3 separate regions of the Homo sapiens genome follow, and all the other regions are linked to region 1. The links come from fine-mapping of genetic effects on gene expression. A gene starts in region 1. Each other region holds a variant in brackets. All regions are shown on one strand. Distances are between the middles of the regions. Region 1 holds the start of CD93 (CD93 molecule). Region 2 overlaps LINC00656 (long intergenic non-protein coding RNA 656). Region 3 has its middle 7.6 kb from the start of LINC00656.

What was found. PIP is the estimated chance that this variant, and not a neighbour inherited with it, causes the effect.
Region 2: its variant is fine-mapped to the expression of CD93 in whole blood (INTERVAL, PIP above 0.99).
Region 3: its variant is fine-mapped to the expression of CD93 in whole blood (TOPMed, PIP above 0.99).

What each region holds. Positions count from the first base shown.
Region 1 is chr20:23,082,525-23,088,937 of GRCh38, forward strand. It overlaps CD93 (CD93 molecule), which reads right to left and starts at 3,800. Exons shown (of 2, transcript NM_012072.4): 1 at 1,735-3,800; 2 at 1-1,450. The coding sequence starts at 3,668. The coding sequence ends at 1,426. RefSeq lists enhancers at 3,784-3,963, 5,491-5,630.
Region 2 is chr20:23,123,013-23,129,425 of GRCh38, forward strand. It overlaps LINC00656 (long intergenic non-protein coding RNA 656), which reads right to left. Exons shown (of 4, transcript NR_034149.1): 2 at 5,953-6,153; 3 at 5,617-5,717; 4 at 2,056-3,526. Among named protein-coding and RNA genes, the nearest start is that of LINC00656, 6.4 kb to the right of the region's middle. The variant T/C (reference allele first, on the strand shown) is at 3,230.
Region 3 is chr20:23,137,052-23,143,464 of GRCh38, forward strand. No RefSeq gene overlaps it. Among named protein-coding and RNA genes, the nearest start is that of LINC00656, 7.6 kb to the left of the region's middle. RefSeq lists enhancers at 1-581, 6,061-6,355. The variant C/T (reference allele first, on the strand shown) is at 3,621.

The DNA.
Region 1 (6,413 bases):
TGCCGTGTCTCTGTGTGTGTGTGTGTGTGTGTGTGTGTGTGTGTGAGAGAGAGAGAGAGAGAGAAAGAGTGCACACTATCGACTACATTATCATAGGGAGAAATATTTGCAAATGTAACTTTTAAAATGAGGATATAATTTAAATGGCTTTGAGCAGTTTTTGCTGTAAAAATGATTTTAGTTAGTCATCTCTTTCCCTCTTCCTTCCCTCCTTACCCCCAATTTTAAGGAAAAGAGACAGAGAACAAAAGTTCCTTAAGCAAACTGCCTGACTAGCTCCCTACTTGGTGTGTGCGCCACCCACACTTCAGGATTTAAAATCTCAGGATGCTGCATCAACTGTGGACTATGAACTGTGCTAAAATGCTTTAAAATGACAACTTTCAAAACACAGTGCATCATCTCCCGTTCACACATCCTTTAGGAAACAGCCTGATGGAACTTTCTGCAGGGCTTCCTCTGTCTGAGCTCGGAGCACTGGCATTCCGGGCAGGATGAAGTGGAGGCGGGGCCACAGGCAGGGTGTCTGAGGCCTGCCCTGGCTCAAAGACAGGTTGTCCTTGAATTTGTTTCCTTGTTAGTGTTGATCACATCCGTAGTCAAGTGTGTGGTAACCTCAGTACATTTGGATGAATTAATTCAAGTATCTGTGAACAAATCCCTGGCCTCTCTCGCCCTAGCCCCGTAGATTATGTGACTTCACAAACACCTGTAATGCACTTCAAGCAACTTTTCTCATATTTTTCAAGCTTCCTTTGCAAATAAACCCAAGGCTATTAGAAATGTAAGAACTAAAGAGGCACTTCCTGCCTCCTTGCCACCTAAGAGGTTAATTGCACTTCTGGCCATTCTGGAGGATGTCAACAGTATCACATTTAGCAAGACTTGTGCTGGCGAAATGGAGGAATGCAAATGTAAAGAAATGTTTCCAGTCCGAACATGTTCCCTTTGACCAAAAAACCAGATCTTCTTACCTAATTGAATAATTAATTGATTTAGTTTTCATCCTAGGAAGAGAAACAAATCATTTCAATCCTAATCAGCATGAGCAACTCACCTTTTCCTCTTAGATGGTGGAAGTGAGCAGAGAAGATATTCAGGGGAGCCCCTTAGCCCCGGCCTCCTCACACCCTGATCCGGAATTGGTCACATTGGAATTTGAAAAGGGAGGGGGAGTAACAATCATTATAGAGTCACGAAATCCCCACCGTGGCACGCCAACACACAGCTTCCACTTCAGGAACATCAAACACCCGTAGAAAATACCTGCATGTTCCAAGGGGCCTTTAAGGAGGAGACTTACAATTGTTTGCTAAGATTCCAGTCCAGTCTTTCAAAAAAATGTGGGTGCCCCTTTGGAATGGGGAGTTCAAAGCTCTGAGGATGGTGGCTGGTGACTCTAGTGTCTCTAGGGCCACCTCACTTTCAGCAGTCTGTCCCAGGTGTCGGACTATGGGAAACAAAACAGACAGCGTTGGAAGCCATGGCGCCTCTGTGCCTGCACGTCCCCACCTTGGGAGAGAGCCCCACGTGCGGCCGTGCTGCAGATGGGCAGTATGCTCTAAGGGGGCCCGAGTGCCTGGCGTGGGGGGAGGTTGAGGGGTCAGCTGCAAGGACCAGGGTGTGTCTGCCCACAGGAAACCTGGGCCTGCTCTTGCTGCCACCTCTTTGTACTGTAGTCAGTGCCCCCATGCCTGCCCATCCCCTCCCCCGGTCACTCAGGGCCCCCTTTACCTGTACTGGTTCTCCATGGCCCTGCTCTCAGCTCGCTCTGGAACCCAGGAGTAACTGTCTGCCGCATTCTGGGGCTTCTTCTCCTTCTTCTCCTCCCTCTTCGCTCTCCGCTTGCGATAGACCAGTAGCCCCAGAGCCAGGGCCAGCAGGAGTAGGATGGCCACCACGGTGCCTAGGATGTAGAATAAAAGCAGCTTTTGCCCGTCAGTGCCATCGTTGTTTTGTGTGGCCACGGAGGAGTCCCCACCTGCAGGCTCCTGGGGGCCAGAGGCAGCTGTGGCGTGATGGATGCTGGGCTCCCTCCAGACGCCTGGGGACCCACTGGGGGCCAGCATCTTGAGTGGGGCAGATGTGATGGGGGCGTCAGATGACAGCGAAGGTCTACTTGTGGTGGGTGTAGCCTTGGGGGTGCCCTCGGGGCCCCTTGTGGGACTGGCTGTTGCAGCACGGGGCACGGTGCTCCCTTCTTTCTCTCCTTTGTCCTCCTCATCGGGGGGCCCAGATGGTGGTCCCAGAGACACAGGCCCCATGGTGCAAGAGACCCCATTTGGGGCCAGCACCCAGCCTGGCAGGCAGCCACAGTGGAAGGACCCTTGTGTGTTGAAGCACAAGCTGTCGCAGAGGGGGCCCCCCGGGCCCACACACTCATCCACGTCCTGGCACTGAGTCCCGTCCTCCCCGGCCAGGACGTAGCCCTCCTCACAGGAGCAGTGAAATGAGCCATCTGTGTTGGTGCAGCCCTGGGCGCAAGGCGAGCGACCCAGAGCACACTCATCCACATCCTGACAGGCCCCCTCTCCAGGACCGCCCGGCTCATAGCCAACCCAGCATTCGCAGCGGAAGCCCCCAGGGGTGTTGACACACTCCTGGGCACAGGGGGAGTCCTGGCATTCATCCACGTCCACACAGTCCAGCTGACTCGAGTCCAGCTGGTACCCTTGGGGGCAGCGGCACGTGTAGTTTTTCCCATGGGGTCCCAGGACGCACGTGGCCCCCCCACGACATGGGCTGGAGCTGCAAGGGTTTCGAGAGGCACAGGTCACCAGGTCATCCAGCAGCCGGAATCCTGGTCGGCAGCCGCAGAGGAAGGAGCCATCCCCCCCTTCAAAGCAGTCCTGGTGGCAGCCCCCATTGTTGAAGTTGCAGCCATACTTGGGGCTGACACAGAGGGGGCCCGAGCTGCCCCAGTCGAACACATCGGGGGCCTTCTCCTTGCACAGGAAATAATGACTCTGAGTCTCGTCCTTGTCACCTTCCCCACAGGCTACATTGGCCGCAGAGGCAAAGGGCACAGCCTCCAAGGAGGAACTGGTGGTCTGGAAGGGGGTGGTGTAGGTCACCTGACCTGGGCCCCCCAGGGCCAGAGGCCGGCACATGCCTTTGAAGCTGAACTTGCACACGAAGCCCTCAATGTTACTTCCGGGGGAGCCTGGGCTCCCACAGGGGCCCTCAGACCACTTGGGGAGGCGGCTGGGAAGGAGCGGCTGGGACAGGTCCAGCAGCAGAGACACACAGCGCTTGGAGATGCACGAGTTCCGGAGCTCCTTGTGCCAGTTAGAGTAAGGCGTGTCCTCCCCCCCGCCCACCCAGCTGAAGCCCTTCAGCGGCAGACTAGGGTCCAGGCACTTGCCCTTCTCTCGCTGGAGCCCAATCCAGAACTTGCTCATCCTCGCCGTCAGGGCTGCCTCCCGCCTCAGGAGCTGGGCCAGTACTCGCTGGACGTGCTGGGCCTCCTCCTTGCTCTTCACAGTGGCCAGGTTGCCCCCGTTCTGGTTGCAGTGGTTCTGGGCCTCGGCAGCGCTCAGCTTGCCCGAGTGGGCCGTGTAGCAGGCGGTCCCCACGCAGACCACCGCCTCCGTGTCAGCTCCCGTCCCCGCCCCGGGCTGGGTCAGGAGCAGCAGCAGCAGCAGCAGCAGGCCCATGGAGGTGGCCATCCCGGTCTCTGTGTGGCCCTCTGCGGGAGGCGAGAAGCCCAGCGGCGACAGGAGCTTCTATCTCGGCTCCCAGCTGGGCCCCAAGGGGAGCTGAGGGGTGAGCTGCAGCCACTCCGGCGCAGAGAAGGACACAAAGGCTGAGGGCTTTCCACGTCCCCCTGACCCAAGGCGCATCCTGTACTGTTGTACTTCTTATTTCTCACCGGATGTTGGGGCTTCCTGCAATGAATAGTTCTCTGACTCCTGCTGCCTTCATCACGGTGCTGTTGTTCATAAAAGGAGTCAGGCAGCTCTGCCGGGTCCCTGGCTCAGCACTGTGGAAACAGCGACGGGGGGAAGACGTTACAGCCCCGAGATACTGCCGGCTTGATTTTGGCTCCATTCTCTTTCTCATGGCATGAGGAGCCTCGGAGGCATGCCATGGAGTGAGCAGGGGCTTTGGGGGCTAGGAACTCGAGGAAGCTCCCTTAGTAACCCATAATAAAATTCCACTTTGGTTTGCAAACCACCAAAAGAGAAAAAAAAAATTCTGAGACTTAAGACACAAGGCCATGGATGGTTATAATTTTCAGCCTTTTTTAGAAGCAAACTGGACTTTCCTTTTGCCTAGCTCATGTTCTCTGTTGACTTTGGGAGCCTTTTTTCTTTTATCCTCCCATCGTGAACCTTAAATAGACAGGCATTTTTTAAATAGGATACGGGTCGTGGGAATGTCTGGGTTTTCAACATAATGCCAAGCTCCTCGATAATGTTAATCCAAATTGGGTGAAATTTGGCAGTTCTGGGGGTTTCATAGTGGAAATATTGCATTGTGAGGTGTCAGGGTCACAAAAAGCATCAGAAAGAAAATGAAAATGTGTCCGGCCTCGTGGCGCAGGGCTTGCAGGCTCACTTCCCCCGGCTCAGGATTCCTAGCAAGGGCCGGAAATCTGGGCAGGGAGCGGGAATCGAAGCCCGGGCAGGCCCTCCCGCGACACCGCGACTCGGCAAAAGCCAGGGACTCACAGTGTGCTTTTCCTGCAGCCACAGACCTTTGCTCATTGGTTGGGATCCCCCAGGAGGGGACCCTGAGACAGGATTTGGGGAGACTAGTTTATGTGGGAGGGGAAGTGAAACAGACAAGGAGGAAGCCAACCCATGATGACTTGCTGAGAAGGTGACCCTGGGCTGCTGGAGCCAGTGCCAGGAAACTCTGGGGGCCTGAGGGGACCACACCTCAGCACCATCTCAGCTGAGGGAGAGGCTCCACTGCTCTCCAAGTCCCCTGTCATTGGTAGCAGGCTGTATCTCTCACTTTGAGAGACTGACTATAAATTCTAGCCCTGCCCAGTGACCAGGGGTCTCTCTCACATAAAACTTGTTTCTATGGACAGACACCCTTGTGGCTCTCGTCTGACCCATGTCCAGTTTATTCCTATCAAGACAGCCACTTCCTAAGAGATCCCTGATGGGAGGAGAGTTGGGTTGGGGTGTGGGTCAGGGGAGATGCAGGAGGCAGCACAAGAAGACACAGGAAGCAACACAAGCACCGTGTCACTTACAGATCCCAGGGAGAGGGCAGTGCACCCCACGGGGCCAGCAAAAAGTGGGGAGCTGTCTGGGTCACAAACACTCACCTGGAGGGGGGTGAAGGGAGAGAGAGAGACCTGGGTCCTAAGCCTTTATTGGGGTCCAGGACGTTTCCCAAGCAGGTTTCCCAAGGGGACTTCTCACTGGTGGGTTTAGAGCAAACAGACACGGGCTCCGTGGGGTCCCTGTGGCTGAGAGGTGGGCATGGCGGCATGTCTGGGAAGTCCCTGTGGGGTGTGGAGTCACTGAGACCATCAAATGGGCTGTATCTGCCTGTCCCACAGGGAAATGGTCACCAGGAGGTGGGTGTACAAGGCAGATATCTGGGTTGGCCGCATTGAGGAACTGGGAGGGGGTGGAGCCCTAGACACCGTGTCAAGAGCAATAAACCCTGCTTCTGGTAGGAGAGGGTCCAAATTAGATTCAAAATGGATGCAATGCACAATTATAAGAATTCTCTACACAGCGGCAACTCTTTGGTGCTCTGCACTGACCGTGAGGGCCCCAGGGGAAGAAGCGCCACGGTGGAGAACACAGTGAACGCCTGTGGACCCGGCACCAGCGACCACCACAGTGGCCTCCATGGAGATGTTGAGTTGTCCCGGGGGCTAGGAGCTCGCTGGCTCCCCAAGGGACAAGGAGGCATCTCTGACTCCAGCTGGATACCTCCTAAGAATGTGCCTTAAGTCCTTGCATTTTAGCAAAGATATTTGAGACATTTTGGGAACTCTCCATAGAAGCCACCAGACCCTCCCTGTGCCCCTTCATTCATCCATCTGTTTGTCCATCCACCCATCTAACAATTGTTGATTAAGACCCTGCTATGCACTGAGTGAGGCACTGGATTCCAGGAGGGGATCCCTGCCTCTGTGATCCTGGAGTCCTGTTAGAGTGGACAACTTTGAACAAGTCACGGCACTGATGGCTTTATTGCAGGCAGCACAGGGGAGCGGGGAGGTCGTGGTTGATACAGGGGTGGCATCCTGACTGGGGGATGGGCAATTAGGAGAGACTCCTCTGGAGAAGACAGGCAGTCAAGCCGGAATCTAAAGGAGAAGCAGCTCAGATGTGGAATGGTGTCGGGATGGGGGAACAGCATGTACAGAAGCCCTGGGGACAGAGAGTGAGTGAAGGGCAGGGAGACCAAAGCCCAGGCAGTGGGAGGGAGGATGCAGG
Region 2 (6,413 bases), 40 kb after region 1:
CATGGCCACGTCATACAACCCTGTCATATTGGTGAGCAATTGCTGTGTAGCCAAAGACCCCAAAACTCAAACAGCATTTATTATTATTGCCCCCATGTCTGAGAGTCAGATGTGCATTTGCTGATCTCAGCTTGTTTGAGCTGCTGCAGGGTTGGGGCTCTGCTCCAGGCAGGCTTAGCTGTCACCACATGCACACATACATTCTGGGCCTCTGCTGTGCGCGTCACGTTCACTGAAGATCTTGGGATTGGGAGTTAGGGCGGTGGGAGGGCCCAGCAAAGTCACCTGGCGATGGCAGGGACACAGGGAGGAATGTAGAATGGGGCCGATGATGGGACCCACACGTCTGCAAAGCTGCGGTCTCCTTGAGGGGTGGAGACAGCAACAACTCACCGCACGCGGTGCTTCAGTTCACCATCTCCCTGGGACATTAGGGGTCCCCGTGTTATCTCATTTTGCTCTGGTTTGCATTAGTTTTTTATCACTTCGTAGATGAAGCCACTGACACCCAGAGAGGGAAAGTGGCCTGACCAAGGGCCACAGCAGGGGAGCGAAGGAGCCCCACAGTCCGGCAGGAACACAGCCTCTCCCTGGCTTTCAGGTTCACTGACATCTTCTCATGGCCTCTGTAACTCACCAGGCATCAGGGTGTAGTCCTTAGACCAGTGTCCCACAGCTGCCACAGAGTGGGAGCTCACCATCAGTTATAAGTCACTAGAAAGGCTTTTGGACATTATAAGCTACAATGGAAAATAAGTCATCTGTGGATTTTTGTGACAGATTCCAAAAATTTGAATATTTTGTCTACTTAGGTTTTTGGTTAATTTTATCCTCAAAACTGTTCTGCAGTGATTAAGCTGTACAAACTGCACCATGGGCGAATTGGCATATTCAGAAATGACTGATATTCTTGATTTCAGTTTTTTACTTTGTATGTAGCTCCTCAAGGAAACATCATGTAACTTGATTCCCTGGGAAGGTCCAGTGCATGGCACGCATGGGCCAGAGGCCACTCTCCTCCATCCGTAGACCACACGTGTGGACAAGCCCCCAGCATGCCTAGAGGAGCAAGGCCAGGGCTGTGCATGCTGAGGCGCCCGTGGCCAGTGTCAACAGGAAAAACTAACTCCGCCAGTTGTACACGTCAGCCAGGTGTGGGGTCATGCATTTCTCAACCCTCGGGGACTCCTCAGGATGGGATGGAAGATGTGTAGGTAGATTTTGAAGAAACTGCAGATGGTGTTTCAGAGAGACGGTAGAACCATCCATCTCCACTGTAGCCCAGGAATAAAACTGTGCAGCTTGACATCCCCTCTCCCATTCAGGAATAAAAAGGAACAAACAACTGATACACACAACATTTGAATCTCAGAATCACTATGTGGAGTGAAATAAGTCAGATACAAGAACATCTGTATGATTCCAATCACATAGAATGAAAATTAACCTCTAGTGGCAAAAAGCTGGTCAATGGTAGCCTGGGCCCAGGAGTGAGAGGGGCCTGTCTGCCAAGGGGCACGGGGAACTTTAAGAGGGAGCAGAGATACACTGTGGCGGTGCTGCCAGGGCCCCTTAATAATGCACTGTGAATGTGCGCTTTGTGAGACAAAGTAGTAAACATAGGAAACCACGTTTGCTCATTTGTGCTTGGCAGCAGAATTTCACAAAGTGCCTGTCTCTATAACGATGTGCAGCTCCCCAGAAAGATGCTCTGAAGACAAAACAGGATGGAGCACACACCCTCTCCGGACTCTTGCCTGAGTCACTATATTCTTTGCAGATAAATGGCCCTGGTCTTACCTTTTCCTACACGTAAGATAACATCTGACAGGGTCAGTGATTATTGCTCTGTAATTGAATCCATAACCTGATGCACTCTGACACCCAAGCTTTCATGTGACTTTGCACGTACTGGACCTCCCACCTATATGTCAACTGTGACCTGAAATACAGAACCTCAGTGGAGGCTGCTCCAGGGCTCTACGCCACAGCCTGTAGTCCTCGGTAAGCTTCTGAAGAAGACGAACTTTAATTCTTTAAAAGCTTGACAATAACTTTAAATGGATATGATTTATTGCCTGTAAATTATCCCTCAATAAAGTTGATAAGGATAAAAAGAAAAACTCTGTGATCTGGACACAGAACGAGCAGCCCTGGGTTATCTTTGCATTCTAGAAGGGGCCTAATATTTGTGTTAGTAGCAACAGCAGTGATGGCTGGAAGCCAGATTGTGCTTACTTGCACCAGGTGCTGAGCTGGGCACTGTATGCATCGGAGGAGGGGCATGGTGGCATGCTAATAGACCTTTATTTACAGTAACAGGCAGTGGGGTGGGTTCGGCCATGGACAGAGGTTTGCAGACATCCCAAGTTAAGGCACTCTGGCAGGTGTGCCTGGCGGGTCTTGGGAGCTGGGCCTCCAGAGGTTTGTGCTGACAAAAAGGCCAATGACCCCTCCTCCTGGCATTCTTGTGGGGATGGATGTGATGGGGTGTGGCACACAGTGATCAGGCCAGGTAACGGTGACTGAGACGCAGGGAAAAGGTGTTTCATTTAAGAAGGGTCGAGGTCAGTCTCCCCTCAGACCCAGCTTCCCTTGAGCCAGCTCAGTCCAAAGAGCACGCTGCCCTTCCTTCCGCACACTGGAGCACGCAGCCCTGGACCCACATTTCTCAACAGGAGCAAAAAAAGGAAGTCGGGAAGAGAAGCACAAAGCCAGTGAGTGAGGACTGGGCTTGCAGCACCCCCAAGGGCTCCCCAGGGAGAGGGTGGTTAGAACATCTGTGAGATTGCAGTCTAGGGTGACTCAGTGGAGCAACTGTCAAAGGTGCTAAGCTGGGATTTCTCAAGGCCCATCTTCCCCAGAGCTCCTCCCAGCCACAGACCCACAAAGGGCCTCCCTCATGGGTCTCAGTTACACCAGCTTCTCCCCACAGCACCAACAATCCTGTCAGCTTCTTCCCAGGCAGCAGCAGGCCTCACATCCCCACCAAAAGGGACACCATTGTGATAGCCTGGGCTGCAGAGATGCACGCCCTGCAGGGACAGCTGTAGGTCTTGGCACAGATACAGTGGCCTGGGCTAATCTTGAGCTGGGCCTTTGCCTCCTGGGTTACTGATGAGAAGCTCTGAGGCTGAGGCCAGTGGATGCCCCCCAGACCTCTCCACTCTCCCCAAGCACCCAAGGCCAGTTCTATGACTGTCCTGGTGAGTGCCAGATGCAGGGAAAG[T/C]GGCCCCCTGTGTGGGGCAGGTGGCTTCTGCATTTCTGATTAGGGGGCCAGGAAGGAGGCATTCAGGAGAAAACACCAAGTCAGAAAAAAGGTTCCCAGGACTGGGGACGAAAGACTCAGAAGGAGGGGAAAGAGGAAGAAAGCTGTAGGGGAAGGGAAGGGAGGGGGATGAGAAAAACGCTGGGGAACACCACTGAAGTTACTTCAAGCTAGCAACACTGGACGCTCAGGTCTTCTGTTGCATGGGTTACCGGGTTACATGCCAAGGGCTCAGTGGCTGCCTGTGGCTGGTGGCTCCTGTACGGGACAATGAAGATACAGAACTCGTCCATCATCACAAAAAGTACTACTGGACGGCACTGGCAAAGCCTAACCACATGTAAACTTTACTCAGGACATGAGGGGTTCCTGGCCTTCCGCCCCCACCCCCGGGAGCCTGGGGCCTTGGGTTTAGGCTGTCACTCAAACCCAGGGTCTCCCCACCTCGCCACTGTGGGCATTTGTGGCCAACCACTGCCTGTGATAGGGACTGTCCTGGGCACTGTAGGGTGTTGAGCAACAACCAAAACCTATCAGATGTCACCCAGTGTCACCCTGTTGACAGCCACTGCTCTAAATGGAAACAATGTGGCTTTGGGGTGAAAGGGGACCTGGGGGAAGTCTGGATCTGTCTCCAGAGCTTGGAGCTCCCGTGGGCCTGGCAGACGCTGGGGGTCCAGGGTCACAGGCTGAACCTGAGATGTTCCAACAGGAGGGGCCTGCCTGAGGGCCTGGGCTCAGAAATGAGGGGGCAGGAGTACATGCAGAGGGGACCCCTGCCTAGGGAGCTCAGGTCCTGCCTTGCAGGGACCTGAGGGGCCAGGCTGGAGGGAAGAAAAACTAGAGACCAGAAGATTCTAGAACACCAGATACAGCTATAGCAGAAGGCAAGGGGACTTAGAGTGATTTGGGCACTAGGATCAGGGCTGATGCGGGAGGGCAGGCAGGAGTGCTGGGGGGTTGCCTTGGTGGGGTTCGGGGAGGGGACTGAGCTGGGGTCAGGGACAATCAAGAATTCCTGGAGGGCAGCAAAGTAAAGAGGTTAAGCTGAGAGGCAAGGAGGCATCAAAGGAAGCGAAGAGGTGGGGACCAAGGGGACCCCAAGGAGTCAGGACTGAGGGGGCTGCCTGAGTGGGAGAAGAAAGGAGTCTGGGCCACAGGATTCTGAGGAATCTCACTCCTGAGTTGGGACCAGTGGGAGCCATGAGCCTGGGAAGAAAAGGGGCCCTGATGCGGGGCCAGGCCTGGGCTGGAGATCAGAGCCAGCAGGCCTCACGGAGCAGGATGTGAGCAGGGGGCACAAAACGCAGGGAAACCCAGGGGCTGTGGGCCACTAAGGGCTGGGGACAGCACATCAGGGCCCTTGGCCTGGCCGAAGCACAGCCAGGAGGTTTAACTCCAGGTGGAGTGGGCAGAGGTTGGTACTCGGGTCACATGGGCATGGCAGTTAGTACATGGACCCGGAGATGCCTGGACTGGGGCCTGGGCACTGGAAGTTAGAATGGGGGACTTTGGTAATGGGGATTGGCCAGGGAGGAGCTGGCATCGAGGGGCCACAGGAGACAGAAACTAGGCAAGGCAGCTTGACCTCGGCCCGCTGGGAATCAGGGGTCTAGGAAAAGGAGGAGTTTGGCGTGAAGGTGAGAGGCACGGGTTCCAGGGCACATAGCCCTTGTCAAGGGTGGGCCCATGGCTGTGGAAGGGAGTGCTGTGGATTATTGGACACTGGGCAGGGAGAGGCAGGGTCCAAGACAGCCAGGCTCTGCCTTGGCTGGGGCCTAAGTAAGGGTTTGGGGACCCAAGAGAGGTCTGTAGGCTGGAAATGAGCTGGACAGGCCAGAGTTACAGGGCCTAAAGCCTGGGAACAGTGACCGGGCTGAGGGATGGGGCAGGCTGGCCCTGGGAGGCCGAGGGGTCCAGGGGTTCCATGCACTGCAGGTCACCCTGCTGCATGGATAGATGGTGAATGTGGTTTTGGCATGGGCAGTGGCACAGCGGGAAGAAGACTGTGAAGCCAGCAGCAGGGACAGCCACGAAACCCTCAGCCTGCTCAGCATCTCCCCCTTTCCTCCGTCATCCTGGTTGGTGGCAGCCCCTCCGCCTCATCTCTGCATGGGGTGGGGGGGTAACTTTATATTATGAACTAATCATCATGAGAACCCCATAAGGAAGACCATATGGTTATCCCCCTTGCACAGATATATTGAGTCACTTACCCAAGATCACACAGCTAATTAACACCAGCGCCTAATTCAAACTCAGGCAGCCTAGTTCTGAGGCAGCGCTATTCAATCAATATGCACTTAGGGAACAGGCGGCCAGGAAGTGCAGGTGGGCCCCACCCTTACCCCTGCTCTGTGCTGAGGCCGCTGCCGAGCTGTCTATTCAGAGTCAGCTCCTCTGGTGCTGGAAGATGCTGGCACTCAGTGCTCCATCGCCTCTCAGTGAGCTGATCATGACAGGAGAATGACAGAAAATGACCAGGTGTTGCCACCCACCACTGTGAGGCTGGTGGTCCCTGTCCCTTAGAGAGGGCGAGCTGGGCTCATGGGGATGCAGAGGCAGCTGCCCTTTCCCACTGGGTGACCCTGGTGGAAATCTGGGAGCTGAGGGTGTGGACTGCCTGCAGGGAGGCCTCACCTAATACCTCTAATAAAAGCACCCCTCGTGTGCCGGGCACTGACCTGGAAGTTGGAGTGACTCACTTGAGGCACCAGAAATGCTCGCTGCAGTGCAGATGTTAGGACCTGGGTTCAGAAAGCAGATCCCTAAATGAGCCTCTGGGGTCCACGGCTTCTGGTCCACGTGCCCACGGCTTGGTGAGGTCTGGGAGGTCTCCCTGAGGGAGGCAGGACTTGAGTGGGACCGTGAAGGGCAGAAATAACCTGAAAAGTGGGGACAAGGCAGAGGATAGAGAAATGGAGGGAGGGAAGGCCTCCCAGGGCACAGTCCTTCTCGGAGGCCCCGAGACATGCCTTCTCCCCAGTTACCCTCCAATAAAGGGAATGCAGCACCACAAGAAGACTCAGTGGCACCATCCCTGGCTGCAGAGGGGCCACCCAGCTGCTCACGGTGTCCTCACTCCATTCTCATTCTTTGCCTAATGCTGATGTCTCGCATGGAATATTTTTCTTATCTACTTTGA
Region 3 (6,413 bases), 55 kb after region 1:
GGGGCTGCACCAGGGCGTGAACTCTCGGGGCGTGGCTCCCCAACCCTCTTTAGAAACATTACCTTGAACACCATAGCTCAGAGCAGTAATCACCAGTCCACTGAGGCAGCAGAGGGGCCTACGGCTGGGACTGTGGGAACAGGGAAGCTGCACCCAGGGCTTCACCCACAGGCACCATCGCTTACTCTGCCTGGCTCGCGGGTCGGTGAAGGGAGTGGCTGCCCTTCTGCTCAGCTCGGTCTTTGTCCCATTATTTTCTCCATTTGTTCTGCTGAAGAGACAGCCAGGAGGCAGTGAAGTGGCCCCTCCAAGGTCAAGGCAGCATGCAAACCCCACCTGCCCGCTGAGCCTGACATTTATTTTATCACAATGGGTTTCAAGCAGGAAGATTGCCCTGTCCTGAGGACAGGACAGCCAGCTTCATGGGCACTTGACATGAAAACCTCCAGTGGCCTCAGTACCCAGGTGGGGGTGGGAGCACTGCAACCCTCAGGGCAAAACCAAGGAACATGAAGGTGTTGGGGATGCACCTGGGCCTCAGCCTGGCAAAGAGCCCAAGAAACACCCAGGTAGACTTTGGGAGTGGGAAAGACTCCACCCACGGTCTCCGAGAGAAGGAGGCTAATGGGGCAGGGGGTGAAGACAGGATAAATGAAGGAACGCAAGAAGCCTAAGGGGGAAGGTGGTTTGAGGGCTGAAGCCCAGGTTGAGACTAGAAGGCCAGGCAGAAGCATTCAGATCCCAGGTCCTGTAAATTCTTTCCCACTGGGGAAAGAATTTGTCCTACAGGAAGGCTGAGGAAAGGCTCTGCTGAGTCTATCTTCGCTTTGTTTTTTGCAAGAAAAGTTTTCCTTTTGTGAAAACTTATCATACAGATTGGGCCATTCTTGTCACACCCAACTAAAACACAGTCAAGAATCCAGTGGGGATAGCACCCAGAGCACAATACATTGCTCCAAAAATGTAATTATCTGTAGGCCTAGCAGCTGAAACTGCCTGCAGTAGCCTGAAACCAGTTTTATCTAAGACTCCTGAAATGACCTGCTGCAACTCTCAGACTAGCTTTGCCCATGGCTGTCACTTCCCAATCAGAGCTTGCCAGCTACTCAGAACCTTACTAGTGCTGGTGAAATTTCTCAAAGAGCAATGCATAACATTTCTTCTTTCTATAAAACCTCTGACCTTCTATTTGTTCTTCAGAGAGAGCACTTTTGATTCACGCTGGAAACTCTCTCCATCAGTTTGGTTTGCAAACTGATGTTGACATTAAAGCCCTCTCTTCGACTACCCAGCCATCCTGGTGGTCCTTTGGGTAACACTTGCTTCATGAGGCTGTACAATGGTCTAATAAGAGGGCAGAGGAAATTCATGGTAAGCCCTTTATCCCCAGGGACAGCTCCTGGCAGGACAGGTGCTGGAGGAGGGGGAAGGCTTTCTGTCCTTTTTCATTGCTTATCCCTTTTGTCTTGCCTGCATCTGATGTTGAGTTTGGTTTCTCAGATTAATATTTCTTTCCAGAGTAGCCAAAAAAATCATCTGCCACCGAGTTGGACTGGTTAGAGCACCCTCCCCTTGCATTTTTAATGATCTGACCAAATAATAATAATTCCCAAAGAGTCCTTAGAAATCCAGAGAGGTAGGTTTGCAAAATCAATGTTGAAAATGTCAGAACAGGCTTGCAAAATTCACATTACAAAAATTGCATGCAGCCCCCGCAATCAACTGAAGGCATCTGGCTGTTGCAGACACACCAGCCTCACCTGGCTTACCTCAGGTCTCCAATTTGCCCATCCATTTGCAGGGCTTCTCAAGCTCTCTGGGACCACCCAGCTGAAACAGAAGCACTGTGCTGTCCCCTGGGTAAGGAGGGAAGCCGGGCTGCTAGAATGACAAGGCATGGGAAAAAGGCCTGACTCCTGAAATATTGTTCATTCTCCAAAAGCTGTCTGATCAAGGATTTTCAGATGCATGAAGTCAAAGTTACCTACCCTTTTTCAGGGCAACGATATGGAAATGTAAGTCAAGATAAGCAGAGGAAAGGCAAAGAACTGTGAGGCCTGTGAGGGAGGCCAAAAAACATGCTCTGGCATAAGCCAGCAAGGGCAGCTTCTCAAGAAAAGAAATTCCGGCCCTTGACTCTTATGGACCCATTCTCTTTCTGTTGGCCTTAGACACAGAAACTAAGACACATGTTTAGTCAACGATGAATATATGAACATTAACATCAGACAAGATATTTGAAATTGAAAGTGACCTAGAAAATAAAACTATTGAGTGTATGATCATGTTAGACCCTACCTGCTGAAAAATTCCTTTAACAAGGGGTTGATTAAGTGGCATTTTAGAATTTAGAAAGCACTTCTCAGCTACAAAGATGATTGCTAGTTTCTTACCTAATCACAAAGAGGCACAGACTGGTGTTTTCTCTGTGGCTTTTACAGAGACCATAGTATATTATATACACAGCTCTACACTTAGTTTCTCTCTCTGAGCAAGAGTAGAGGGTTGCCTTGTTCTGTTAACGCTTTGGAGTGAGGTTAGCTTTGTGTGTGTGTAGGATTTATTCAGCTCTGGCCCCAGTCATTGGATAAAGGGTTTGCTATGATAAACATCTGAGCCTACATGCATGTATGGACACGTACAGGAAACGTCCTTACATGGGGACGCGTCAGGCACGTGGTGTTGGCATTCTTTACTTTGTGTGATGCTGCCAATCACCCTCTGTGAAGGTGGTGCTGGTTCACACTGCTCATCCTCACTTCATGGTGTGGGCACACTCCCTGGTGGGTCCCAACCTGCCGGGTGAAGCAGGAGCAACTCACTGCAGTTTTGAGTGCGTTTTTCTCATCTTTCCCTGTGTATAAGAGGCAGTTATTTGAACAATGAGATCACATGGACACAGGAAGGGGAATATCACACTCTGGGGACTGTGGTGGTGTGGGGGGAGGGGGGAGGGATAGCATTGGGAGATATACCTAATGCTAGATGACGAGTTAGTGGGTGCAGTGCACCAGCATGGCACATGTATACATATGTAACTAACCTGCACAATGTGCACATGTACCCTAAAACTTAAAGTATAATAATAAAAATAAATAAATAAATAAATAAATAAATAAATAAAGAGGCAGTTATTTTTCTGTTTCTGTCTCTATCCCTTGTCCATTTGCTGTGGAGTTGTTGATTTTTTAATCATGGATTAATAATAATAACTTGAAATAAAAAAACTAACCCCTTTGAATTTGATATATGATACAAATATATTTCACAGTATCATGTTTTAATTTTTTTAAGTTTTGTTTTATTAATATGTAGATTATTTCTATTTTATATGCAGTTAATGCATTAATTTTTTGGTTTTTATTTCTTGTCCCTTATTCATACTTCTCTTCTTTACCCCAAAATTATTTATTTTTCTAATTCTCCTACATTTCCTTCCAGTAAATTTATGATTTCACCTTTAGGTGAAATAGCATTATACTTAAATGCTATGTTATACCATATATATTTAAATGCTATATTAAAATGTCCATCCTGGACAAAGTCTGGAGCTCCTCAATCTCAGTTTTGTCTTCATGTTTTGCACAAGCTTTCTCTCTTTGTGTCTGGCTTACATTCTG[C/T]GTGTTGTTTTGGATGTGTGTGTTCCTCCTGCTTATTTGGACATTGTGAGTTCCATTTCTAGCTCATTTTGTTGTTACTCCTGTAACTCTATCCTTTGATGAGATAATGTACCCGTGATTTAGACAGAATTTTCGAAGCACTGTGCTTTTTCTATTTCCCTCCATCACCTGACCTTAGTTATGTTATTTTTAAAAATTCTTCTGGTGTTTACATCTGTTCTTTAAATATTAATTGATTTTATCAATTTGAATGGATTCCTTTTGGACCCTAGGAACAAGTATGGCATGTCCGAGGTATTCAGCTTATAACCAGGGCTTTCAAGATTACTTGAAAGGAAAACATTCAAAAATGTATTTTAAAAAATTGTTAAACAGGGAAGCATGAGACATTATGATGCAAACAGAGTGACCTAATGTTCTTAGCTAAGCAAGGGAGAGGTCCTCAGGGTCAGGTTTTCCAGGACGCAGTGCTACCCCAGCTTCCCTCCCCGCACCAGAGTGACTTTGGGGGCTGTCAGCCACACCCCACTCTGAGTCGGCCTAAGCTGAGTGTCAAGCATTGTGGACATGGCTGCAGCCAGCGGTCCTGGGTATGTCCCTCTGCTGACCACTTGACACCCAGTCCTGGTGGCTTTGACCGCAGCTTGGTCTTGGAGCTGTCCCCATGGCCCTCAGAGTCTCTGAAGGGAGGAATCCAGGAACACTACAGTAAACCAAAGCCCAGCTCTTTGCGAGGGCTGTGCTTCCATAAGTAAGGCACAGGCTGCGAAGTCCTCACCAGGAGTAGAGGTCCTCAAGAGACCCTCTCTGTCCTTTGTCCAGCCTCCTGGGCATCAGTGCCATCATCTCTGGGGACAGCGTGTATCTGTAGCTGTTCACTTTGTAAGCCTAATGCCCAGCATCTGTCTCCTGGGCATCTGTGTCCTGGGCATTAGGCTTAGAAAAACAAATGACAGGTGCCTCTGGCCTCTTGGGCCTCACAGTGTTTTGAGAACAGACACCTAGATAAGTGACAAAACGTCAAAGCTCCAAAGAGCAGCAGCAGGTGCAGGCAGGGGACCCTGACATAGAGATAGTGACTCTGCTTTCAGGGGGACACTGAAGAGTGTGATCTGAGGGGAGGTGGAGGGCTGAGCAAGCAGAGATTAGGCAGTGTTGGGATGGGGCCATTCCTCCAGCCTCCTGCCCACCATCTCACAACTCCAGTTTTTCCCACTTCCCGGTACCTCCTGTTAAAACCCTTTGAGACGGGACACATGATGAAAGCATTTGCACGGCCTTGGTCAGCTCGGACATCTGCCAAGGCTTGGATTCTCCTTTCATCAAAGCCAATGGATTCTGCACGCAGCTCCCAAGAGCTGGAAACAAAGTGGGAGAACCCTGTCTGGAGCAGTGTATTCATTCATGCGTGCATTCATTCAACGTGCATTTATCAAAGGGCCACTTTGATGTGCTGGAGATATAGGGATGAACAAACCGGACCAAGTCCTCCCCCGCACAGGGCTTGCCTTCTAGTGGGGTGGCAGCCAACATGAAATTAAACACAAGTATACTATCGAGTAGGTAAATGCTATGAACAAAAATGCAAAAAGCCAGATGCTCAAGGGCAGAGGCTGATGTTTTGGGTACGGTGGTTTGGGAAGGCCTCAGGAGCTCACCTTTGAGCACTAGGTGTGGCCAACATGTCGAGGGTAATGGGGTAGGTTTGACTAATCAACCACAAAAGAAGGCCTCTGACAGAACTTAGAGGAAGTAGCAAACGTTGCAGAAGGAACTAAGTTTGTCAAATCACAGCCTGTGTAGTATCTGGTCACAGAGAGAGTGGGTGGGCCAGGCCTGCATGGATCCTTGAGGAGAGGTCTTAGGCCGGCCGACAGCAGTCCAGGAAACATACCAGAGCAGTGCCCCTGGATAGGCTCTGGTCCAGCATGGGCTATGGTCCAACCCGGCCAGGGAAGCCCCCAGCCCCAGGCTGAAGGATGTACAGCAGGCGGCTTTCCTGGAAATGCTGGCTCGATCCAGGTCAGGTGCACGGAGTGAGGCCTAGTGGTGCCGTGAATGCCCACTCCTGCCACCAGCCCAACTCAGTGCAGAGGGGGACCTAGATACATTTGCTAGACAACAGGGTGCCAGGGCATTCTCTTCTCTTCTCATAACATAATATTTCCTGTACTATAGCTTACACTTCAGTAGGTGGCGAAGTCCACGTGAGCTAAGCATTCTGTGCAGTGGTGATTTTTGATGATTTCTGGTAGCAAATTGAGCCAATAAAATGTGACCACCATGAAGGTAAGAAGGTAATCAGGGTCTTTAGAGTCTTGAATGCATGGGTTATGAGCCCCACATTTCGGTCGCCTGTTAAATATCAGGCCTTTCTGGGTGATGGGCTGTCTAATATTCTTTCTTGCCTGTATTTTTCTACATTGTTTGAATTTTATATCTACACATGTATCGTTTAAAAGGGAAGCTCTTTTCCAAAATGCTAACACTCCTGTTTTCATAAGTATGATTTTCATAATCCCAAAGCAGGAAAAGCAGTCATCTCTGTGCTGAGCACTAGGGAAACCTCAGATGACTCAGCCCCATGGAAAGCAAGCCACTTCCTGCCGTGTTAAAGGAGACTGCGCTGACCTTCAAATCCAGCGAGTGGTGACACGGGTCTGTCAGCTAGTGTTAGGGATTGTGTAGTTATTTTTTATGAAGGACACAGGAAGCCAGAGAAAAGAGACATTCAGAAGGGAGAGAATTCTAGAAATTCATCACATTTTGTGGGAATCCTTAAAATAATAAGTT